Homo sapiens: one gene and its partners. The protein of the gene in region 1 purifies or fractionates together with the protein of each later gene. This does not show direct contact. Each region holds a gene or a part of one and is shown in the gene's direction. Other genes may lie near its edges.

Region 1 (3,500 bases):
TCCAATCTCCACATGCTTTTTTCTTTTCTTGAGACGGAGTCTTGCTCTGTCACCCAGGCTGGAGTGCAGTGGCACTGTCTCGGCTCACTGCAACCTCCAACTCCCAAGTTCAAGCAATTCTTCTGCCTCAGCCTCCCCAGTAGCTGGGATTACAGGTGTGCGCCACCATTCCCGGCTAATTTTTGTATTTTTAGTAGAAACAGGGTTTCACTATGTTTGCCAGGCTGGTCTCCAACTCCTGACCTCAAGTGATCCACTTTCCTTGGCCTCCCAAAGTGCTGGGATTACAGGCATGAGCCACTATGCCCAGCCCAAACTCTACATCCTTGCTAACACTGATTATTTTCTGGGTTTTTAAATAGTAACCATCCTAATGAGTGTGAGGTGATCTCTTACTAATCTACAGTATTGCTCAACTTTATTTTATCTATTTTATTTTATTTTATTTTATTTTATTTTATTTTATTTTATTTTATTTTTGAGACAGAGTTTCACTCTTATTGCCCAGGCTGGAGTGCAGTGGTGCGATCTTGGCTCACTGCAACCTCCACCTCTTGGGTTCAAGCGATTCTCCTGCCTCAGCCTCCCGAGTAGCTTGGGATTACAAGCATGTGCCACCACGACCAGCTAATTTTTGTATTTTCAGTAGAGACGGGGTTTCTCCATGTTGGTCAGGCTGGTCTCAAACTCCTGGCCTCAGGTGATCTGCCCGCCTCGGCCTCCCAAAGTGCTGGGATTATAGGTGTGAGCCGCTGCGCTCGGCCACTGCTCATCTTTAACGACAGAGTGTGGGTGTTGGAATTGCCTTGAAAGACCATCTGATCTGGTCCCTGAATTGAACATTTTTCAAGAGCTTGAGGCCCTTGTAACTTGTCTAAGGTGTCCAGCCGGTCTACGTGAGGAGGTGTACTGGGGAGATAAGCAGGGGGCCATCCCTGCTGTCTCCTGTAGGAGACCCAAGGCTCTTGGTCCAGTGCCCTTGCCAAACATAGTGCTTGGCCTCCCAGCCATGATACGCAGACCAACCCATATATATCCGCCTGGCCTCCTGCCTCCTCCTCCCTCTCCAAACCTGGAGGCTTTCCATTCTTAAAACAAATAAAAGAAACCACCTACCCTGTTAGGGCCAGGGAGGGAGACACAATCCTAAACCTTTTTGCAAGTCCTCAGTTTCAATTGCAAGTAAAGTAGCTTTCAAATAGCCAGTCCTGGTTCCTGCAGTCCTCTTAGCACTAACTAGTGGAATACTGTCTGAACCCCAGTTTACTCATTCACAAAATGAGAATAAAAATAGCCCCTACCTTACTGGGTTGTTAAGATGATTAAAAGAGAAAATACATGGAGAGCACTTAGCCTAGCACACAATCAGTCCTTAATAGATGTTAACCAAAGACATTGGTAGGAGAGCCAGGATTGATTGTCTTGGGACTAGAACTCAGGTCTCCTGACTCCCGGTCCAGGGCTCTTCCTACAGGAGTACACTTGCTTCTCCTAGCTGAGAGATTGAGGAAGGTGTGTGGGGGTAAGGCAGTGCACAGAGAAATAAAAAGCCTCTTGCAGGCCAGCATTCAGAGGTTTAGGGGCCACAGTCTTAATTCAGAGCCTGTTCAGAAGGAGAGTTGCTGTGGCTGAGGCCCAAAGCCCTTGGAGATAGAAACCAAACAAACTCTCTAATCTCCCCAGCCTCGGCCCCAGCCCTGTGGAGCCCAACTCTTCACAGCTGAGACAACAGAGAAACTGGACTGAAGGCAAAGGGGCCAGGGATTGCAATTTGAGGGGGGATTGCAAAGGATTTCTGGGGTGTCAGGCAGCCCAGGGCAGCTCAGCTGTGTGGGTCCCCATTACCCTTCCCCACCCACCTCCAGGAAAACAGAAAAGGTAGGGCCAGACTGAGAGTCTCCCAACCGGCAGAAACCCTCTCCATCTCCCTGGTTCTGGGTGGCAGGAAGGGGGGTTGTGTTGTTTGAAGAATCATGGGCTTGGTTTGGTTCCAAGGTTCTTGGAGGAAAGGTGGCTGGCGTGCTCACTCCCTGCTGATTCTATTTCCTCCTCGAGCCCCTGATCTCAGACTACCTGTTGAACCTCAATGCCCGCCCTTTGGGGCACTGAAATTCCTGGGTTCTGTTTTCACCTCGTAGCACTGGGAAGTCTTCCAGAAGGTGACAGAGGTCTTCATCCTAGTGCCTGCGCTGCTGGGGCTCAAAGGGAACCTGGAAATGACCCTGGCATCAAGGCTTTCCACTGCAGTGAGTATCCTGGCTGGGAGGAGTGGGGCACAGAGAGGACTCTGGGCAGCACAGAGCCAGAGACTGGGAGAGGGCTACGAGCCCTTCTCCACTGCCCAGGCCTGGAGTGTGGGGCTGGGGTGGGAAGGGAGGGCCTGGCTGGGCAGGTGTAGGGAGATCCCAGGCTGGGTGTCCTGCTCCTGGGCAGGGGCTCCCTGCCCAAAGTGGTTCCCAGGCTTGGTTTCTGGATGTCCCAGCCACCCCTGGACTCCTGCCCCACCCCCTACCTCTCAACCACCTCGTGACTGTTTGTGCAGCTTTGACAGGCAGGCATCATGCTGGTTCCTCCACCCGCACAGATGGGGGCCTCCTCTGATCTCCAGCCCCTGCTTTGCAGCTGGGCGGGAGCAGAGCCAGGCCCTCCCAGCACCCCCAGCCCCCCGGCCATCCCATTCCCTTTACCCATGGCAGCTTGCTCTTCTTTAAGGAAACAGACAGAGAGGAGCTGCTCGTCATTCCTACCTCCCACAGTTGTGAGCCGTGACGATTCCGGGCCTGAACAGATACAGGGCCCTGGGCTGGAGGTGGGAGATGATAAAACTCAGGAGGCCAGGGATCTCCCTGCAGGGTCAAGAGTCTAGAGAAGGTGACAGACAGAAGTGGCATCCAAGTTAACCCACCCTGACTTGCCATACCCGACTTCTGGCCCATGCCACCCACTCCTTCCCAAATACTCTTGGAGCCTCAGTCCTGCACCAGCAGCTGACCTTTCCTTCCCTGGGATCGCAGGCTGGCTTCAGAGTCAGGGACTGGGTTGTTCTGACCCATGCAGGAATGGGCTGCCCAGATAAGCAGGGCAAAGGATAGAATTTGCCTCTGCTCAGCTGGTGTCCTGAGAGGAAGAGAGGCGACTGCCTAGGGGACCCCCTTCCAACCCCCCACCCAGCTGCAGGAGCCCAGCTTTAGCTCCTTCCCTTTCACCTCAGTTTCCCTGATCCTGCTTCACCTTTCCGGGACTGTCAGGTCCTGCTCTCAGAGTCTTAGGCCACATGTACTGCCTCATGATCTAGGCAGGAGCCTAATGGATGGAGCTTCAGGCCTTTTCCAGCCTGAAGCTCCAGCCCCTTGCCCTCCCTTTCCCAGGCCAACATTGGACACATGGACACACCCAAGGAGCTCTGGCGGATGATCACTGGGAACATGGCCCTCATCCAGGTAAGAAGGCAGGGACCAGAGAGGGTGGGCTAAGCTTCCCCTTAGTCAGGAATCTCTGAA
Region 2 (3,500 bases), on another chromosome or scaffold:
TATATTTATCCTTCATTGATCTAAGAATACCTTGGCCACATGGCTGAATTAATGGAGTCACATTTGGGGAAAAGTACATGGCATAAACATGATTTTTGATGAGATGTCAGCTGGAGGATGAACAGAAAAGTTGTCAAGGTATAACAAAATATTTCAGTCATCATCCAGCCCAGCTTCCCTGCAGTGAGCACAAGCCACAGGTCCAAAATGTTTGTGAGACCAATCAGAAAAGATATCCCTAGTTAAACATGCCTTTTTGTTAGCATAATAATGGTCTGGTAAGAAATTCGCTGCTTGAAAACAGCAAGGACACAAACTTTTGCCTGTCATGCAAGTTTACGCTTATGCATGCCTGCTGCATTAGCACATCCCAGCAAAGTTGTTCTGCCCTTGATGTCCTCAGTTCCTGGAGGGGCTGTCTCATTAGCTGTAGTTGTGTCTTTCTGGAGCAATAAAACCAAAACAGTGATGTTCCATCAGCATTATAGACTTGTTCTGGCATCAGATTTTTGTCAGCAATGACCTTGGCAAACTCACCAATGAATTTCTTTGCTGCTTCATGATGCTTTGTCACCACATTAAAAAATTTGGTTTCATGTTTTTTCTTAAATTTCTGCAGCCAACATGTTGAATATTCATAGTTCCTTTTCATTTTCAGTTCCTCATCCTGATAGATCCTTGCTTGTTTCCTGACCCACATAGCATTAAGTGGCAGGTGTTCACTGCAACACCAAGGGATCCATCCTCGGTACATGATCAGGATCTTCATTTTTAGCTTTATGCAGTGTTTCTCTATTTTTCATTAATTTCTGTTTATCACTTTTAGCACAGAACTTCAACAGTTTATCCTTCTGTTTCTTCAGATCCTATATGGTGGTCACTCCAACACCATACTCTCCTGTAAGACGTTTCACACTTACACTGCTCTCCACTTTCTCCAACAGCTTGACTTTCTGTGCTATAGATAAACATAAATCTTTTTCTTATCACTGTTACCCAGAGGGTATCTGCACACCTTTTAGATATTTTAACAACATTTTTATAACACAGAGCAGAAAGTAAGCAAAAAAGCACAGTGAGTGACGCACGTGGGTTTTGGCCCCATGCAGGTCATTGTGGGGAACCTGCCCACTGGCATGTGCTTGCGTGGGGGAGTCGGGGCATGTGCAGAAAAGGCATGTCACAGCTGAAGGAGGGTGAGAGGGTCTCTTTTCCCTTGGAGACACTGAATAAACTACATGTTGTGGCCTGCATTTTGACTGCAGCCCATCACATGAGGTCAGGTGTGGAACTTGCCATTTGTACTGCCATGTTGGTACTCAAAAAGTTTCAAATTCTGGAGCATTTTCGATTTTGAATTTTCAGATTAGGAATGCTTAACGTGTGTTTTGCTTACCTGACTGCACGTCTGCGCAGGCCTCAATTTCGTCTTTCTGTAATTTGAGCACAGGAGTTGATGCTTCACATGCCGAGTAAGCTTTCCCAGGAGAGACCGTAATGAGATGTGTGGGGACTGGGCGTGCTGGGCTTCTCTGAGCAGAGGAATAGTGAGAGCCACAGCAGTAATTGTTAGTGTCCACCAAAGAGCCCTACAGACAACTGTTCTCTGTGCTGCTAGTTTTTGCTCCAGTTCTTACTGTCTATATGGTGAACCTCTGAAACTACATAAAGAAAGGACAGCAGGGGCCACTTGGCTAACTTGCACGGCTGTGAGCACTGCACTGCACCCCTCCACTGGGGAGTATTGGGTAAGCACCCATCGGAACACCTATCCCCTGACCCTTCTCGTCCTTGCTGGCTGGTTGTCATCGCATACCCAAGCCCAAGCATGCAGTTTCAGTTTGCCATGGATGTTTAGTTTTGGACACTATGGGAAACCTTCAGGTGCCCTTTCTTAGTGTAATTGTTTATTCTTTTTAAAGAACTGTGCTAACATTATTGCTACTTAGCAATAGTTTTTAATCTGGTGAAAATAACAGGTCAGTGGGCAGTGAAAGTTCTCCTGTCACACTTGTCTTCTCACCCATAAAAATCACTTAAAGCTCTGAAGCCAGCTTTGGCTAAAGGGGCATGATCTGCCCCGCAGAGGATGAAGAGCGAGCCCGCTGCAAGCTGTGACAGCAGACGCTCTCTTCTGCCAAGACCTGTGAAAAGCCAGTCTTAGTTGTCAAAACCAGCACCGCGGCACATGTCGTTCATGTCTGAGAGAATGAACTCAGAAGGAAGTCTCGTGTACATAGAAAGCTTTCGTTCTTACTCTAGGATGTCACCTACGTGACTTACAACCCAGCCCAGCCATCCCAGACCTAAGGGGTTCTTCCCTCTCCAGGGCAGGGCCTGCATGCAGTCCATGCTGCTGCCCTGTGTTGGTGACCTGTGTGTAGCCAGCCCATTATCAGCATCCTGTGGATTCCAAACCAAATGTATCATCAGTGGAGGGAGAGCTCAAGTGCCAGGTGGAGCTGTGGCCTAAAGTCACACTTCATCACTCCAGATTATGAATCGTCATTTGCCAGATCTCCAAATTGCTGAGTGTGGACAGCAAATGGATTCGTTTGTGCTGGCTGGGTGCAAAGAAGCAGCCAGTCCTCAGCTGCACTTGAAGTACTACAGGTAGTAGTAAAGGTAGCTTTTCCAAGCCGTTTAAATAAACGTCATTAAGAGTGGCCAAGTTGTTTGGGGGCCATGGCATCATGGTGGTGGATAGTAGGTGGAAGGAAGGCAGGCCAGCTCCCGTTTGGCCTGAGTTATCTCCACCAATGACAATGGTCCTTAACTGGAGGGAACATCATACAGGTTATTTCCACCCAAGATTGGAAAGACCACCTTGATCAGAGAGAGTTTTCCTTCCACATGACACATATCCAGCCTGAGTCCTCCAGCCCCTCTCCCTGCACAACCTGATGGAGGCTTGAGAAAGCACAGGGAGGAACACTTAGCTTGAAAATGTTCCTAAGGAAAAGGAAAGTGTGAATTCTGAGAACCAAGTGGCAGAATTGAAGTTTCACATCTGGCAAAAGCTTAAACAGATTATTATCAAATAGATGGTTTGTGAACGTTGAAAAGACAGCTGTGGTCTAGGACACCAAACCAATCCTGTTGGCAAGAGATCACCAAGACCTTTGACAACATCTCATCAGCTTATGAGAGATGTTGGTGACATGCAGAATGGATAATGATAGTGCAATGAAGTGGGTTTGAAACTGATTAAAAATGTTGATTAACCCCTTGAACACAGAGTTCTGGGCTCTTTGACCTGACGTGTTTGACATTTTCATCAATAATAACTTGAACAAAGTTGTAGAGGTTTACTAATCAAATTTAGGCATGATACAAGTTTGAGGGAGATGATTAACAGTAGATAACAAAATGAGAATTGAAAATAATTCATTTTGGTTGACTGGAAAATGATCAGATGGAATTTAACAGAGATATGTAGAGTCCTAGACTTAAAAGGTCAGGTAGGATTTGAGAGACCTGACTTGACAGCATTTTATGTG
Region 3 (3,500 bases), on another chromosome or scaffold:
CCATGGCCTTTCCTCAGTGCCTGTCCACAGACAGCAAGAGGCTCTGGTCCTCTCTTCTTAGAAAGACATCAATCCTGTTGGATTAGGGCCCACCCTTATGCCATCATTTAATCTTAACTACTATACTTCCTTAGAGGCCTCTCTGGGTGTCGTTAGGGCTTCAACATATGAATTTTGTGGGAAGACAAACATTCAGTCCATAACAATCACCAAAGCTGGCCAAATAATTGGATGCCAATATTGCATCCAACTGCAGTCATGTCATTTTGGTCAATGATGGACTGCATGTATGATGGTGATCCCATAAGATTACATTGGAGCTGGAAAATTCCTGTCACCTAGTGATGTCCTAGCAGTCATAACACCTAACATCGTCCTAAGGCAACACATTACCTTTACTATGTTTAGATACGCAAATACTTACCATTGTGTTACAATTACCTACAGTATTTGGCACAGTAACATGCTCTACAGGTTTGTAGCCTAGGAGCAATAGATTATAACATATAGCCTATGTGTGTAGTACACTATATCCTCTAGGTTTTGTGTGACTACATTCTATGATGTTCACACAATCATGAAATTGCCTAGCAATGAATTTCTCAGAGAGTGTCTCCATAGTTAAGCAGTGCATGACGATTTCTTAAATCTGTACATAATTTAATCCACTATTTGTTCCACTTAGGTTATTCACTGATTTTATTCAACAAATAGTTGTGTTGGCACAGTGGAGAACATCATCAACATAGTCCTTGTCTCTATAGAGCTTCACTCTAATACAGGAAACAGAAATTAAACGAACAGGATAGTGATTAAGAACATAAGATTTGGCCAGGCGTGGTAGCTCACTCCTGTAATCCGAGCACTTTGGGAGGCCGAGACAGGTGGATCATTTGAGGTCAGGAGTTAGAGACCAGCCTGGCCAACACAGTGAAACCCCGTCTCTACTAAAAATACAAAAATTAGCCGGGCAGTAATGGTGCACACCTGTAATTCCAGTTACTCAGGAGGCTGAGGCAGGGAGGTTGCAGTAAGCCAAGATCATGCCACTGAACTCCAGTGGCAACAGAATGAGACCCTGTCTCAAAAAAAGAACATAAGACTTACTAGAATGCCTGGGTTGATACTGGCCCTGGGCAAATTACTTAACTGTTTATGTCTGTTTCATTAGCTGTAAAATGAAAATAATACTAATATTTACTCATAAGATTGTGTGAAATATTAAGACTATCGCATTATGCTTACTTACTACCTGTCATGTAAGTACTAAGTAGATGTTAGCTATGATTATTAAATATAAACACAAGTCTATTACTCATTTATGCAAATGCCTCCTAAGAAGTTACACTTTTTCACATTTTTGTCTCCCTCAAATTCGTTCTCTCTAGTGCCACTAAAATAATCTCCAGTAATGTCACTGCTTAAAACCCTTCAGCAGCTCCCCGCTGCCTACGGGAGAGAGGCTAAGCTGGTAAGGCAGCCAGCAATGCACTCATGACCTGCTTCTTGCCCTCCCCTCCAGCCTCATCGCTCACCACTCCCTGCCACAGCTTTACCCTCCAGCAATGCTGAACTCTGTGGTGCACTGTGCTATTCTTGCCTTTGTCCCTTTATTCACATTGCACTTCTGTCAGGAATATGCTTTGCCTGACTAATTCATTGCCAGCTCTTTGACACTCAGCTCAGGGGCCTCCTCCTCTGGGAGACTTCTCCTGTAAACCCCAAAATACAAAAATAGATTTTTTGGCCAGCTTCATTGTTTTATGTGCATATCTCAATCATTGAACTAACAAGCTGTACTACCAGTGTTTGTTTATAAGTGCCTCCCACCCATATAATGAGCATCTCCAGGGCAAAACTGTCTTATCTGTCTTTGTAGCTCCAGCAGCTAACGATGCATATGACACATAGTAAATTTTCAATGAATGTTTGTTTAAGGACTGAATGGATGACTTAAGGAGTTAAACTTTAATATAATGGAAGAGATCTGCAGAGCACTAGAAAATGAATTAAATCATTTTGGACTATGCAGCAGAACAAATCAAACTTATAAGTTTGTTAGTGTTAGAAGAAAAGTGTTGCATCTATTGTTTCTCAGCTTCTTTAGGTACATCTATTAATATTTATTACAACAATTTCTTTTCACATGTAAAGCACTGTGCTAAGAGTTAGGGGTATGAGATAAAATCTCTGTTCCCAAAGAGCCTAAAGCATAGTGGATGAATAGCACTTCCCTTTGCAAAGCTAGAAGGCAAGCTGGACACTCACCTTTCCCATGACTTCCAGTGACCTTGAATTTACAAGTCATGTCTCAGTATATAAGTACAGGATATGGGTAAGACAGACCTTGGTACATAAAGCATTAAAATGAAAGTGCTATACTAGAAATGCAAAAATGCAATGGGAACATGGAGGATACAATAACTATGACTAGGTGGCATTTTTTTTTTTTTTTTTTGAGATGGAGTCTCACTTTGTCGCCCAGGCTGGAGTGCAGTGGTGTGATCTCGCCTCCCAGGTTCAAGCGATTCTCCTGCCTCAGCCTCCCAAGTAGCTGGGACTACAGGCATGTGCCACCATGCCCGGCTAAATTTTTGTATTTTAGTAGAGACGAGGTTTCACCGTGTTGCCCGGGGTGGTCTCGAACTCCTGAGCTCAGGCAATCCGCCAACCTCGGCCTCCCAAAGTGCTAGGATTACAGGTGTGAGCCATTGCACCCAGTCATATTTTGCTTTTATAAATTTTTTACTGAAGTTTATGTTTCTATAATTTATACAGAAAAAAATTTAAATATAGAATAGTAGAAAAAAGAAGTATGAAAATCATATGAGGATAATCATCCCACTATCCTGAAATAGTAACTCAATATTTTGTCATATTAAAAATATATTGCACATAATAACAATCTTAATGAAATTCTTAAAAAGAAAACAAAAGGAAAAGCCCATTGTCCTGCCATCAAGCACAAATCAAATGTCCCATTCTAATCTTAAGAGTGATTTTCTTATAGGGTGGTATTTTTGCTATAGTTTCCTCAGGGTTGAGTGCTATAATTTGGGAAGACTAATTTTAAAAATGGAGCCGTAGAGATTTATCATACTTCTTAAATTTACTACTCTATTATTGGATTGCTTTTAGGAGACACTGAGTTCTGTATAGACAACAGGGGAAAGGAATAAAGCTTTGTTCTGAAGTCAAAGCTTCTGAGTAATACAGCACTGACTGACATTTAACTCAATTAAACAATTCAGCTTTGCTGGGCTAGTAACACCATCTTTGCAAACAAAAAAGCACAACCCACGTATGCTAGGCTGCTCCACCTGTACACTAGCATGGCTGTAACACAGCCTACTGCACAATCCATACTCAGTCTTTGCTTATTCATTGATTCATTCAGTAAACATTTTTTGAATTCCTGCTTTGGGCCAGGCATTACACTAGACTCTGGGAATACAGTGGTGAGCTAGGCAGACATTATGGAGCTAAAAATATCCTCTTCC
Region 4 (3,500 bases), on another chromosome or scaffold:
AGCGAGACTCTGTCTCAAAAAAAAAAAAAAAGTTTGTCAGAATAGCAATTCAATTTTATTTAACACAAATTTGTATTTTTCATAATTTTAAATATATAAGAGTAATATGGCCGGGTGCGGTGGATCACTTGAGGTCTGGAGTTTAAAACCAGCCTGGCCAACATGGTGAAACCCCATCTCCACTAAAAATACAAAAATTAGCTGACGTGGTAATGCATGCCTGTAATCCCAGCTACTTGGGAGGCTGGAGTGGGAGAATCACTTGAGCCCAGGAGGCAAACGCTGCAGTGAGCCAAGATAGCACCACTGCACTCCAGCCTGGGCAACAGAGCAAGAGTCTATCTCATAAATAAATAAGTAAAATGGATCTTGGATCTAGCTAATGGGATTGAGCTAATGTGTTTCTCATTTCAGCTCCTGGTGGACCCATGTGGAAATGGGACCTCCAGATCCCATTCTGGGAGTCACTGAAGCCTTTAAGAGGGACACCAATAGCAAAAAGATGAATCTGGGAGTTGGTGCCTACCGGGATGATAATGGAAAGCCTTACGTTCTGCCTAGCGTCCGCAAGGTGAGCTTGCTGTTCATCTCCTTTTGAATGGGATGAATAAACTGAAGAGAGCCCTGGAGAGTGGCAGGAATAGTGCTGGACCGGGAATCAGGAGCCCTGGGCTTTAGTTCTGGCACTAATGGCATGAATCACCCGGGTTTTCTGGGCTGTAGTCTCCTTGACTGTAAAGGTGAGAGGTTGGAACCACCTGTTTTTTCCCAAGATTGAACTTTCTATGGTTCTGTGATCATCTATAAAACAGACATTAAATACGCTTTAGAAATGCTTAGCTATGCCTACTTTAATCCTGAAGGTGCATAAGAGGACCAAGACTTTAAGCGCTGTCTCTTGTTGAGAGGAATAGCTCTTCGTGGATTACTATTTTTATTTTCCATTTCTCTAACTGTGATTACTTTAATCAAACCTTTGTACACAGGCATGCTCTGTCCTTTCTTCCTGCTGAGCTATGCAATTTTCACCTCTTTCTTTTGTTATATTTTTATTAGTAGCATCTTTATTTGTTAACTAAATAATATAACAAATCCCCTTAGAATAATTTTTTAAGTTATTCAGCAAGTATTTGCTACTGCAACCTGCATCACTACCAAGCACTATTGTACATTCCCTCATTCACACTTCACCTCAACACTGTGAGAGGTAGAAATAGTTCCTCCATTTAACAGAGGAGGAAACTGAGGCTCAGGAAGGCTAAATAACTTGCCTAGGGTAACACAACTTGTAAGGGACAGCCAGGCTTCCAATGCCAAAGCACGAAGATGTGTGGCTATTACTGTTAACACTTCGAAGTTCTTAGACTGGCATATAGCTTGACATGCTTTCTCTTTTGTATTTAGTTTGATTTAATCATCTTATATCTATTTTAGGTGTTGCTCTTAAACCTTGGTCTTGTGCATTCCAAGAATCTCATTTTATGTTAAATTGTAACCAAGAGAGACTATACCCATCCACATAAAACCTAACTTAAACAATAAAATACAATTTGAAAAAGAAAGTATTTCTGTTCTGCAATACAAACTATCAAGCATTCTACCTACCCTTCTTCTCAGAGAGTAACTTCAAATTTTAAAAAAAGGTTTGGCCGGGCGCAGTGGCTCATGCCTGTAATCCCAGCACTTTAGGAGGCCGAGGCAGGTGGATCACCTGAGGTCAGGAGTTCGAGACCAGCCTGGCCAACATAGTGAAACCCCGTATCTACTAAAAATACAAAATTAGCTGGGCGTGGTGGTGCACGCCTGTAATCCCAGCTACTCGGGAGGCTGAAGCAAGACAATCACTTGAACCCGGGAGGTGGAGGTTGCAGTGAGCCGAGATCACACTACTGCACTCCAGCCTGGGTGACAGAGCAAAACTCCATCTCAAAAAAAAAAGACTTTACCTCCAAAACTTAACTTATAAAACTTTAAACATTAATCATAGTAATTCCAAGTAAGGAGAAGAAATTCAATGGATGTATTTTCTCTTGTCTAGGCAGAGGCCCAGATTGCCGCAAAAAATTTGGACAAGGAATACCTGCCCATTGGGGGACTGGCTGAATTTTGCAAGGCATCTGCAGAACTAGCCCTGGGTGAGAACAGCGAAGTCTTGAAGAGTGGCCGGGTAAGCTGAGCAGGCTCTGGCATCATCCCAGGTCTGTTTTAACAAATTTGTAATTATTTAAACAATTTTAGGCCAGGCGCGATGGCTCACGCCTGTAATCCCACCACTTTGGGAGGCCAAGGCGGGTGGTTCATCTGAGGTCGGGAGTTCGAGACCAGCCTGATTAACATGGAGAAACCCCATCTCTACTAAAAATACAAAATTAGCCGGGCATGGTGACACATGCCTGTAATCCCAGCTACTCAGGAGGCTTAGGCAGGAGAATCACTTGAACCTGGAAGGCAGAGGTTGTGGTGAGCCAAGATCATGCCATTGAACTCCAGCCTGGGCAACAACAGCAGAACTCCATCTCAAAAAAAAAAAAAAAATTTAAGAAATATGAAAAGATAACTCATTTTGTGTGTAATGATTGTTTTGAGGAGGCCACACTATTTCTAATAATTCTTATTTGATAGTAAATTGCCATCATTAAATAAAATAATTTACATGACACCAATTCCAAAAATGTACTAGTAGTAATCCTGAAAATGCGGTAGTCATTTGACTGATAGATTTGATGTTACTTTTGCTGTTAGTCTCTACCTGCTTATGTTCATTTTACATCAAATATGCTTTAGAAATGTTAACTATGCCGAGTTTTAAGCCTGCAGTTAGCCCACACCCTCATGTCCTAAGCTTCCAACTTGCACAGAAGCAGCAAGCAGGAAACAAGCCATGGGTGGACTGTGGGGGCTGGACCAGTCTGGCAGCCCTCTGCTGTCCCTTCACAGCCCACATGGACACAGAAAGAAGACCACGCTCCCAACATGTGAACTCGTGCACATTGTGGTTCACTTTCTTTTGAAAAAAACATGTTTTTTAGTGAGTGCATTTGTACGTTTTTCTGGGTAAGCCTGGGGAGTGAAGAAACATACAAACTAGCAAAATTAAGTCAACATTTTTTCTGCCCTTCCCCCTCTGAAAAGCCAGAATAAATACACTTTATTTACAAGACTGGTCTAAGTCCACACATGAATTCGTTAACTCAGAGTAAAGCACACAACCTCAACCCCAGGGTTATGTAGTAATTATCCTACGTCAAATAGAATTTGGTTTAGTTCTGTCCATACAGTCAACTGCCTGTTAGCCCCTCCTGGAAATTTCTGTACTTTTTAATTCATGTGCTCTTTTGCCTAGTCTCTGCTCCATCTAAATAACAACCTAAGTATGAAACTGGCCTACCTTAAAATAACATCAGCTTGTCTTTTATAAGTTGTTGTGCCTCAGCCGGGCGCAGTGGCTCACTCCTGTAATCCCAGCACTTTCCGGGACCAAGGCGGGTGGATCACCTGAG
Region 5 (3,500 bases), on another chromosome or scaffold:
GTTGCAAACACTGGAACCCTTTTATGTATATACCCACTTGCTTCATACCTTCACCTTTCTTCTAGCTTCCTTCATGTACCATTAAAAGAGCTCATCATTGGAAGCTACAGAGGGTCCAAGGCCAGAAAATGAGTGGGGCTCAACTGGCCGGGCTCTGTGGCTCACGCCTGTAATCCCAGCACTTTGGGAGGCTGAGGTGGGCGGATCACAACGTCAGGAGATCAAGACCATCCTGGCTAATACGGTGAAACCCTGTCTCTACTAAAAATACAAAAAATTAGCCGGGCGCGGTGGCTGGTGCCTGTAGTCCCAACTACTCAGGAGGCTGAGGCAGGAGAATGGCGTGAACCCGGGAGGCGGAGCTTGCAGTGAGCCTAGATCGCACCACTGCACTCCAGCCTGGGTGAGAGAGTGGGACTCCGTCTCAAAAAAAAAAAAAAGAAAAAGAAAAGAAAATGAGTGGGGCACAACTTCTTAGCATGTCAGGCTTGGGTTATCTGGTCCAGAGCCATGTCTAGGCTTTATGGGGAACTTAAATGTTCAAGGGCATCCAGGCCAGCAGATGGAGCTGGGATATGTAGTCTGGGCCTTCCCTGGAAGTACAGGTTCCCTGTACTTCCCTTCAAATATGGGACAGCCTTTACCCTGCCTCTAGGGAGCAGAGGCTGAAGTTGTGGGTCCAGCAGCTGCATAAGTACAAGGGTCAGATAGTACCTTTTATATTGGACCCTTGGTGTTTTATGAGGCTGTCTACTTAATGGCTTTCTTGGTTTAGCAACATTCTTCATGATCACTAATTGCTTAGTACTCTTTCCATCCCCATTTTATTTAAGAATGAACATGTAAAAATCTTTAAAATCATAATGAAAACTAAGTTGACATCTCTGTTTTTTTCTAAAAAATCAAAAAAGCTGATTGTCCTAAATTGTGTAGATCGTGGGAATATTGTGTAATGAGGAAAAAAAAATAAAGGCTTTAAGAGAGAATTCTAAAATGCTTAATTTCAAAGAAAGTAGTTAAAACATCAGTCTTCTGATGAATTTCTAACCATTCCCCCACGTATACAACTTACTACATTTTGTGCTTTTAATTCGCTCTGGAACGTTGTTGTCAATGAATTTGGTTTGATTACTCGGGAGAAATTCCAAGTAGAATTGTATACACAGGGGGAATTTGTTGGGATAATGAATTGACTCACTTTTTGTTAAGGAAAAGTATCACAGTTTAATCACCTTGTCTGTGCTGAAAACGTTTTAAGTAAATGAATATTGTTTGCTTTTCTAGGGAAAATATGCACGGCATGTATTACTAATTTTAATGCAGCTGTATCATCCAACCAGCTTGTTTAATGTTAGGTAACACATTATCCTCTGTCCTGTTGCCTTCTCTGGAAACCCAAAGGATAAATAAATGGTACTATACAAATAGGGTAGGCCCTTTAGAAACAGATGTGTGGTACCATTAGGTATGTATTCTTCACTTTACAAGAGCTGCCAGTACTCCACATCTGCCAGGGTACTGTGGAGCAGTTTTATAACTTCCTCCATGGTTGCCATCAACCATAAATCATCAAGCAAAAGGTACTTGCCCCTTTGAAGAGCAAGTAAGTCATAACCGCAACTTCAGATTTGAAGTTCCTATCCGTAAGTTGAATAGTTTGGGGTTGTGAACTCAATATTTAAAATCCCAGGAAAACAGAAAGGAGAAGGAGGGGCAAGTAGGACAACCAGAAAATGACCTCTGTTCTAGAGCACTGTCCAGTAGAACTCTCTGTGATGATAGAAACGTTCTGTATCTCCGCTGTTCAGTATGAAAGCCATTAAACACGTGGCTGTTGAGCACTTGAAATGTGGCTAGCATTACTAAGGAACTGAATTTTAATTGTATGTAATAGATTTAAATTCAGAATAGCCACATTTGACTAGTGGCTACAGTACTTAGACGGTGCCATTCTAGAGAGTCTGGGTGCATAGCCTGACACATGATCTTTTTGGATACTGTGTCTTCCCTTCCAAACCCTTCTAGCCCTAAATTGTTCTACAAAAAATACTCAGGATTTATGTAGGCCAGTGTTGGAATTTATAATCCCAGTAGTTTGCATTCTTCCTGAACAGGCAATAGAATAACACTTGCTGCTTTATGGCTTTTGAACCAGACTCTACTCTCGGATTTGATGGTCCACTCACAGACTGTTCACCTCCCTTTGTTGCCGTGCCTCTGGCTCTGTTACAGGAATCTGTACAAATTGGCCCACTCGATATGCACTGTAGTAAGCTGGATTCATGTGATATTTATTCCTTCCTCCCCAGGTTTGCTCTTCGTTTTATACGGCCTGACCCTCGCAGCCGGGTCACTGACCCCGTTGGGGACATTGTTTCATTTATGCACTCTTTTGAAGAGAAATATGGGAGGGCACACCCTGTCTTCTACCAGGGAACGTACAGCCAGGTCAGTGCCATAAACCATATAGATGCCAACTTACCGAAATGATTCTATCCTCAAAGGAGAGCACAGCCCAGCACTGATCATGTCCTTCTTGTACTCAAAAACCTTAATTAGCTCTTCACTGCTTATAGGGGTGGGTAATAAAAAAGACCAAACCTTTTAGCTGGCCCCTCTTTGATCTAATGCTGCCCTTCTTTTGAGGTCTTTTCTGCATAACTTATTTTACCATACCCTCAGTTCCAGCTGACTCATTCCCTGAACATAGTCTGTACTTGCCTACCTCTGTGCCTTTGCTTTTGCCGGTCCATCCACGTGGAATGCCTTCCTCACATTTTTGCTAATTGGAATCTTGCCAGTCCTTCAACTAGATTATGTCACGCCCCACTTACAGCTATCCCTGATTGTTGTGCCCTGTCCTGCCCTATCTCATCATCTAGAATACTAATCTTTCCCTTTGTTCTTCCATAGCTTTTAAAAATTGATAGCAATTTTATATTCTTTCCTATATCATTTGTGTTCGTGTCTAATCTCTGCTACCAGACTGAAAGCCCCTTGAAGGCAAAGCCTACATCTTCTTTGATCTCTCACAGAATTGAATAAGGACATAGACCATAGACTCAGGGTAGCACATCTCATTCAACCTCAGCCATGTAGACCTTTGACTCAAGACCTCACCATTCAGGGGAGGAAAAATTAGAGTTCTGTGGGTGTTTGGTATATCTCTAGTTTGCCAGAGAAATACATAGAATTAACACTACAGGAATAGGGAAAACTATGGGAATGCTGTGGCAATAGGCAAAAGGGGGTTCTATTATGCAGCCTCCAGAATTCCTGAATCTATCTGGAGAAAGAAAAATGCTCACCCTTGCTTCCTGCTTTCATTTTCCCACATCTGCTTTTTATCATAGTCAGTCTCCTCGCTGGCTGTTCCCACCACACTCAACAAAAACTGAGCACCTACTGTATGCCAGGCAATGTCCTCAGTGCTAGAGATACAGAGATGAGTGAGATGAGCACCTCCTGTGTACCCTCTCTGCTATGATCCTGAGGGTAGA
Region 6 (3,500 bases), on another chromosome or scaffold:
TCCCGCTAGTGCGAGGTCTAGGATAGGACCACGAGGGTGGGTGTGTGAGTTATCACAAAGGACAAGGTCATTGGAGAGAGAGCAAGGAACTGAAAGGTTAGGGAAGGATCATGTACCTGTGTGGATGTTGAGAGTACCCTGGATGATTTCATGGTTACAACCAAAACTAAACAAAACAATTGTGTTTCCAGATCTCTCACATTCTTTTCCTGTTTTGTTTTTTTTTTTTCTTTCTTTCTTTATTTCATAATTTCCTCCCAGGAAATACTCTTTAAAAAATATCTACTGTGTTTCTTAAAATAGATGGTATAATTCCTGCTAATGCAGTCTAAGGACATTTTTAAAGTCCTGAATTAACTACACTTGATTTTTAAACTTTAAAGGTACCTGTATCTAACTCAGTGTTCTCTCTTTTCCTAGGTTTTGACAAGCCCATATTACATGGATTATGTACATTTGGATTTTCTGCCAGGCGTGTGTTACAGCAGTTTGCAGATAATGATGTGTCAAGATTCAAGGCAATTAAGGTAAATGTGTATTACTACGTAATTTGAATATTACTTCCTTTTTCTATCTTTAGAGAAGAAAAGGGGTTTTAGTGATTTAATTGAAAATAGATATTGTACTACAGCAATGTACATTTTTATTATTTCATTGACCTGGCAATCAGCACACTTTCTTTTTGTAGCTATAAATAGCTCTGTTGCACATGCACCAGGAAGGATGCACAGTTGCAATTTTGACAGATTAACTGGGTTGCTTTATAAATTAATTAGGTGCATATATTATATATATATATATCAGTACGTATGCCTTGAAAACTCAAGATTTGCTTTTTTTAACTGTTTTATCATTTTCATTAATTTAATTAAAAATGTTAAGTGGCTGATTAAGTCCAATAAACATACATCTACAGCAATATAATGACTGCATATTGTTTTAACTCTGTACTTTTTAGTTGATTTCAAATTTTTATCCATTATAAATAACAAGGAAAAATATCCATGCCCATATTATTTTTGTGTATGTTTAAGCCAAAAGATGTACACTTAAAAAAGTTTAAGGGGTTGTCAAATAGCTCCAAAAGCTTTTAATTTATCCTCCATGCAGTAGTGAAAATATATTTTCTGATGCATTGCCTTTGATAACACTAATTACTCTCATGCTTTTCATTTTGTTACAACTATTTTTTATTATCCAGTAATATATACACAGAGAAAATAATATAAAAAATTATGAAATAAAAAGTGGAATTATTTTGCCCTGCATACTCACCCCAGGCCTCATTCCTTAGACTTAATTTGTACCACTTTTAACTGTTTCTTTAAGTTGTTCTGATGTACCTATATAACTCACCTAATATGATTATGGTTTTATTTCTTGATTTGTCAAGATAAAAAACACTATTTTTTGATTCCATACTTTGAAAGACAAAGAATTGGCTTACTTATATTAGTTACATCTTTATTTTACTAATTTTATCATATTATACTTAGGTCTTTTATGAATTTAAATATCTTTAAACCTTGATTTTTTTTTTCTTTTGTGCTCTCTAGTTTCCTTTCCAATTTTTTCCTCCTACAAGTAAAAGAGTTTCCTTTTAAAACATTTTTAACCCCACAATTCTTTTTTAAAGGCTCGTTTTGCAAAACCAGTATATCCAGGACAAACTCTACAAACTGAGATGTGGAAGGAAGGAAACAGAATTCATTTTCAAACCAAGGTATGAATTTTGCTTTTTCACCCTTCTCACATGCTTTATCATTGTGTTCCATCTTACCATTTTTTTTTGGTTAGTACTATGGATAGAAAGTTCTTTTTAAGTAATGGTAAATTTTAATTAAAAATAAGATACAGCTTGTCTGGTGTTTTCAAAATTTTTATTTATCAGGCAACACTTAATAAAATAGAAGTGTTTTGCACCCTGTGTTTTATTTTCTCTTTTATTTTCAACTAAATTGGTAGCTATCTATGTAGCAGTGGCCCAGCTATTCTGAAAACCCAGCCAACCATGTCTTTTTGGCTCAACTAGTCAATCAAGTCATTGTCAAAATATCATCTTAAAAAATTTAAAGGCATGACTCAGACAGATATACAGTGAAAACATGACAGAAATCTATCTGACTCATTAATGAAGGATCTTGCAATATGATAAAACATGTTCGAAAAAAAATTAGAACAACAGTTTATATGGTCCAATAGGAAAGTTATTCTAAAATAATTTTGCAGAGTTAGAGACAAAATTAGTTAATATCCTATAGAACAATAAAATCTTATCCTTTATGAGTTTTCTCTGGACAGAAATCATATGCATCTTGATTACACAAAAAATCCACAAATTAACAAGTTACATCACAGAGTCTGGGCCTAACAAATAGTAAATGAGGTTATTTTGGGGTGAGGCTGTTAGCAATGCTCCAGTAAAATACTAAAAGGACATGCAATCATTGTTTTATTTGCAAGTTATTAAAAGACAGTTTTTGTTAACACAGTTGACCAGGCTAATACTTTTTGGCTTGATCATTTCATGCTATATAGAGCATATTAAACAACTCCAATGATAATAGGAACAGCTTTCATTTATTGAGAACCTATAAACTGGCAATAGTATTTTCTTTAATATGCATAATAAATCTGTATGTAAATATAAGAAAATCTAGGTTCCTAAGAAAATCTAATCTAGGTGTCCTAAATAACTTGCTCATGGTCACACAGCAAGTGGTTGAGCTGGGATAGAAACCCGATCAGCATGGCTTCAAAGCTTTGATTACAGGCCCCAAATGTCTTTTCTGTATCATGTTTTCTTTCACAAATAGATAACTGCAAAATTCTTCTTACATGGTTGCTTTACTCCTAATTCCTTTCTGCTGGTTGCAATATCATTTTCCTGCTTAATTTGTACATATTGTTTATTTTACTTTTCAAATTCCTCCTGTCCTTCAGGCTTAAGTTCAAGCTCCACTTTGCTCTTAGAGACAGTCTCTTACTATTCCCCACTTTCCTACCCATAGATACACTCAAATTGGTGTTCTCTGAAAGCCTTTGCAGCTAATATCTGTGCCACATATTTTGGAGCCCTCACATTTTCTAATTTGTTTTGTATGAGTAAGTTTTGCTTTTTGATTAAGATTATGAACTCTAAAAGTGTTAAGGACCATGACTATATTACAGGTTTTTATTTTCCTGCAATTCTGGTGATGAATAGTATGTAAATAATTTCTATGGATACAAACTTGAAGGGCTGAGAAATGATTAAATGTCTAAATATAATGTATTCTTGCCATTTTGTTAAATTCTAAGCATGCTGTCTTATCTTTTCAGCATATTTGCTATATTTTTCTTCAGTGATTATAGATATTCTTTTTCTATTAGTTTTAGGACTCCTTCTCTCCCTGCCTCCTTTTCTCACTTTCTCCCTCCCTTCCTCCTTTCCTTTCTATTCTTAAGATATAAGAAACATTTTAAACCAGTGTTTTAAAATGATTTGCTTGATTTGGTAA
Region 7 (3,500 bases), on another chromosome or scaffold:
AGATTAGAAGTCTAGTACCATTTCATTTATTCAACATTAGCATCTACCATATGCCAAACAGTGGGTTGGGTACCGGGGACACAAAAATGAACAAAGCACGGTTCCTGCTCTCCAAAAGCTCCTTGTTTAATGCAGAGAGGCTAAGCCTAAATAATAGAGGAGAAACTTGGCAGTTTGAAATATAAATTGAATTTTCCTTATCTGAACAATGCTTGGGACCAGCAATGTTAAAGATTTTGGATTTTTCTGGGTCTTGGAATATTTGAGAAAACATACCATTTGAGCAGCCCTAATCTGGAAATCCAAAATCCAAAATGTTCCAATGAGCATTTCCTTTGAGCATCATGTTGGTGCTCAGAGAGTTTCAGATTTTGGAGCATTTCAGATTTTAGCATTTTTGTATTAGGAATGCTCAACCTGCAGCATCTTGACAATGGTTAGACATGCAGTTTGGAAAAAACTGTTGGCCTATGACAGAGAAGAGAGCAGAGGCAGAGCTCACTTAGGAGAGACTGATGCTGAAGTCCTTCCCCAACACAGCCATTGAGGAGCTAGGTTAGGACTTCCCTTGCACCAGTATCATCAGCTAGTTTCCCTCCCCCTTTTTTCCCCTTTCCAGTTCTCTTTCATTTCCAGATTTATTCTCAGAATAACTATATAGGTCTTTTATGTATTCTAGGCAGGAAGCATTCAGAAAACATTAACAAGGCTTCCTTATCTTGCTTTACTGATTCTGGAAATAGCATATGGAGTTTCTTTTGTCCACCAGAGGGAGTGAGCCTTCACTTTAATGAGACTTATTTAAGACTTTAGTCCTCTGTTGGTACTACTTTGTTGGAAGACTTGAAAGGTTTACAAAGTTCTCTGAAAGTTGCCTTTTCTCGCCTTTTTTAAGGATAGAATTTAAAAAGAAAATGTGTGTATTTTATTATAAATACAGAGTCCTCATTATTCTCTTTAGACTTATTTTATGGTGAATATAGTACTCTGAAAATAATAAAATGCATTATCTGTAAAAAATTAAAAACGTAATTTTTTTAACCATCAGATTTTTAAAATTATGTTCTACTTGAAAGTTTTTGTGATTTATCTCTTTTTTTAAATTTTTTAAATTTTTTTTTTTTTTTTTTTGAGACGGAGTCTCACTCTGTGACCCAGGCTGGAGTGCAGTGGCACGATCTTGGCTCAGATCTTGGCTCACTGCAACCTCCGTCTCCCAGGTTCAAGTGATTCTCCTGCCTCAGCCTTCCAAGTAGCTGGGATTACTGTTGCCCGCCACCAAAACCAGCTAATTTTTGTATTTTTAGTAGAGAGGGGGTTTCACCATTTTGGCCAGGCTGGTCTTGAACTCCTGACCTTAAGTGATCCGCCCACCTCGGCCTCCCAAAGTGCTGGGATTACAGGTGTGAGCCATCACACCCGGCCTCTTTATTCTTAAATAGTGAATTAACCAGAATATTCTATTCTCTGGTAGGGTAAAGAGTGAATACCATAATGTGAGCACCTCAGACCTGTAGCTAGTCTTTTTTTCCCTAATTTATATCTAACTATATCTAGCCTATTTCAGAGAGCATTTGAAAGGACAATGTAAGAGCACATGCTCAATAGGATAGTTAAAAGTAACATTTGCTGGGCACGGTGGCTCACGCCTGTAATCCCAGCACTTCGGGAGGCCGAGGCGGGTGGATCACTTGAGGTCAGGAGTTTGAGACCAGCCTGACCAACATGGTCAAACCCCATCTCTATTAAAAATACAAAATCAGCTGGGTGTGGTGGCACCCGCCTGTAATCCCAGCTACTTGAGAGGCTGAGGCAGTAGAATCGCTTGAACCTGGGAGGCGGAGGTTGCAGTGAGCCGAGATCACACCATTGCACTCCAGCCTGGGCAACAAGAGCGAAACTCCGTCTCAAAAAAAAAAGTAACATTTGAGACCAGAAACTATTAACTTTCTGTTCTTCTAAATGTCATGAAAGCAATTATTTCTCTGTATTAATTTTCCTGTCAACTTAATCACTCTCTTTCTGAATTTGAACCAAAGGCTAAATATTTCAGATTAGATGGCTTTTTACCAAGAACATAATGGAAAACACATTGGCTGTCAGAAACCCTCAGAGAATGAGTAATATTGACTGACTTGGACAATGTAAAAATGTTTTTTTCCATCAAAGTCAGAATTGTGTTTCACTTTCCATTTGATGTATGTGGGTTATTTTAGTTAACCTACGTTTTTTGTTTGTTTTCAAATGAAACATGTCATGTATTTAATGTAGGACATTTAGGAGTCATAGAGTTGTATCTTATTTTAGGAGTACTATAATACAAAGAATTGATCAGAGCTGGTCAGACTGTGACAAATACAGATTAATTCTGAAATGGAAGCCTTGCATTATAACTTTTTATAGAGAATTGTACAAGCATTATAAGGATAATTAAATATATTGCCAGTGTTGCTACATGATGCTCTTAAAAGACTAAAGTGAATTTATTAGTGAGTACAAGTATATTGCAAACTGGTTTATACCTTCAAAAAGATATATTCCCTGTTCACTTTATTTCCAATAGTGTTAAAAACCACTGAGCCAGGCAAGGAAGACCATACTGTCTTCAGCATATTTAAAGCAGTTTGAAGAGTTGAAAAGAATCTAAAGGGTAGCCTTGTGGGAAAGGCTGGAAAGGTGGTTACTCCTACTTTGGTGACTTAAGAGATCATATGTAGGAGCTTATAAGCCTATGGACTAGTCTTTTTCTGATAACAGTAGTTGTAGGGCTCTTTCTTGTGGACTATCCAGTATCTTATTTTACTATAAACTTAGAATCCATGCCTAGTGGCATATTAGGCAGCCCTTTTATATTTTCATTTCAAATTCAGCAAAGTGGGCACCAACTTTATCAAAAAATTGATGGGGAGAGTTTGTTGAAGCTCAGAGTGAGGATGGATGTAGAACATTTCAAGTGCTTCATATCCAGAAAATCAGTAGTCCTCCATCTGAGTTGTAGACACAGGAAAGGAGTTGAAGATGAATGGAGTAGGAATGTAAAAGCCTTATCTTTACCCTCCTCAGCTTTAGGTCTTAACAAGAATGAGCCTCCCTTAGTCTTTCTTTATGCCCCTGTCCCTGAATGTTGGTGATGACATTGTTTTTCCTGTATTGAATACAAAAATATGGCCAGTAATTTAGGAATCAAGAGGATATAATTCGGAAGTAGACTGTTGTGTTTAGGAGTTTTTCTTTCCATTGTGGAATTGAGTAGCAGCGGTATATATGCTATGTCTGGTAAAATGGGCCATACAGTAGTCTAAGACATGAGGAGACCTTAAGGAGCTTGGACTTAGTTGAGGTGACCAGACTATTTAATCTGCTTAGGTGCCACAGCAAAATACCATAGAGTAGGTGGTTTAAACAGCAGACATTTATGATCTCATAGGTTTGCAGTCTGGAAGTCAGGGTGCCAGCGTGGTTGGTTCCCGATCAGGGCTCTCCTCCTGGATTGCCCGTGT

The links.
Region 2: the proteins of SLC41A1 (region 1) and UBAC2 purify together in Homo sapiens (affinity purification with mass spectrometry; one large-scale study listed by BioGRID and IntAct). This does not show direct contact.
Region 3: the proteins of SLC41A1 (region 1) and CNNM1 purify together in Homo sapiens (affinity purification with mass spectrometry; one large-scale study listed by BioGRID and IntAct). This does not show direct contact.
Region 4: the proteins of SLC41A1 (region 1) and GOT2 purify together in Homo sapiens (affinity purification with mass spectrometry; one large-scale study listed by BioGRID and IntAct). This does not show direct contact.
Region 5: the proteins of SLC41A1 (region 1) and FAF2 purify together in Homo sapiens (affinity purification with mass spectrometry; one large-scale study listed by BioGRID and IntAct). This does not show direct contact.
Region 6: the proteins of SLC41A1 (region 1) and HSD17B4 purify together in Homo sapiens (affinity purification with mass spectrometry; one large-scale study listed by BioGRID and IntAct). This does not show direct contact.
Region 7: the proteins of SLC41A1 (region 1) and HMGCS1 purify together in Homo sapiens (affinity purification with mass spectrometry; one large-scale study listed by BioGRID and IntAct). This does not show direct contact.

What each region holds. Positions count from the first base shown.
Region 1 is NC_000001.11:205,799,699-205,803,198, reverse strand, and holds part of SLC41A1 (solute carrier family 41 member 1), read left to right. Parts: intron 1-2,138; coding exon 2,139-2,246; intron 2,247-3,368; coding exon 3,369-3,440; intron 3,441-3,500. UniProt on the Homo sapiens protein: Na(+)/Mg(2+) ion exchanger that acts as a predominant Mg(2+) efflux system at the plasma membrane.
Region 2 is NC_000013.11:99,378,854-99,382,353, forward strand, and holds part of UBAC2 (ubiquitin-associated domain-containing protein 2 isoform 1 precursor), read left to right. Parts: intron 1-3,500. UniProt on the Homo sapiens protein: Restricts trafficking of FAF2 from the endoplasmic reticulum to lipid droplets.
Region 3 is NC_000010.11:99,335,856-99,339,355, forward strand, and holds part of CNNM1 (metal transporter CNNM1), read left to right. Parts: intron 1-3,500. UniProt on the Homo sapiens protein: Probable metal transporter.
Region 4 is NC_000016.10:58,720,817-58,724,316, reverse strand, and holds part of GOT2 (aspartate aminotransferase, mitochondrial isoform 1 precursor), read left to right. Parts: intron 1-414; coding exon 415-571; intron 572-2,038; coding exon 2,039-2,167; intron 2,168-3,500. UniProt on the Homo sapiens protein: Catalyzes the irreversible transamination of the L-tryptophan metabolite L-kynurenine to form kynurenic acid (KA). As a member of the malate-aspartate shuttle, it has a key role in the intracellular NAD(H) redox balance.
Region 5 is NC_000005.10:176,489,885-176,493,384, forward strand, and holds part of FAF2 (FAS-associated factor 2), read left to right. Parts: intron 1-2,309; coding exon 2,310-2,448; intron 2,449-3,500. UniProt on the Homo sapiens protein: Plays an important role in endoplasmic reticulum-associated degradation (ERAD) that mediates ubiquitin-dependent degradation of misfolded endoplasmic reticulum proteins.
Region 6 is NC_000005.10:119,525,497-119,528,996, forward strand, and holds part of HSD17B4 (peroxisomal multifunctional enzyme type 2), read left to right. Parts: intron 1-420; coding exon 421-527; intron 528-1,636; coding exon 1,637-1,723; intron 1,724-3,500. UniProt on the Homo sapiens protein: Bifunctional enzyme acting on the peroxisomal fatty acid beta-oxidation pathway.
Region 7 is NC_000005.10:43,303,413-43,306,912, reverse strand, and holds part of HMGCS1 (hydroxymethylglutaryl-CoA synthase, cytoplasmic), read left to right. Parts: intron 1-3,500. UniProt on the Homo sapiens protein: Catalyzes the condensation of acetyl-CoA with acetoacetyl-CoA to form HMG-CoA, which is converted by HMG-CoA reductase (HMGCR) into mevalonate, a precursor for cholesterol synthesis.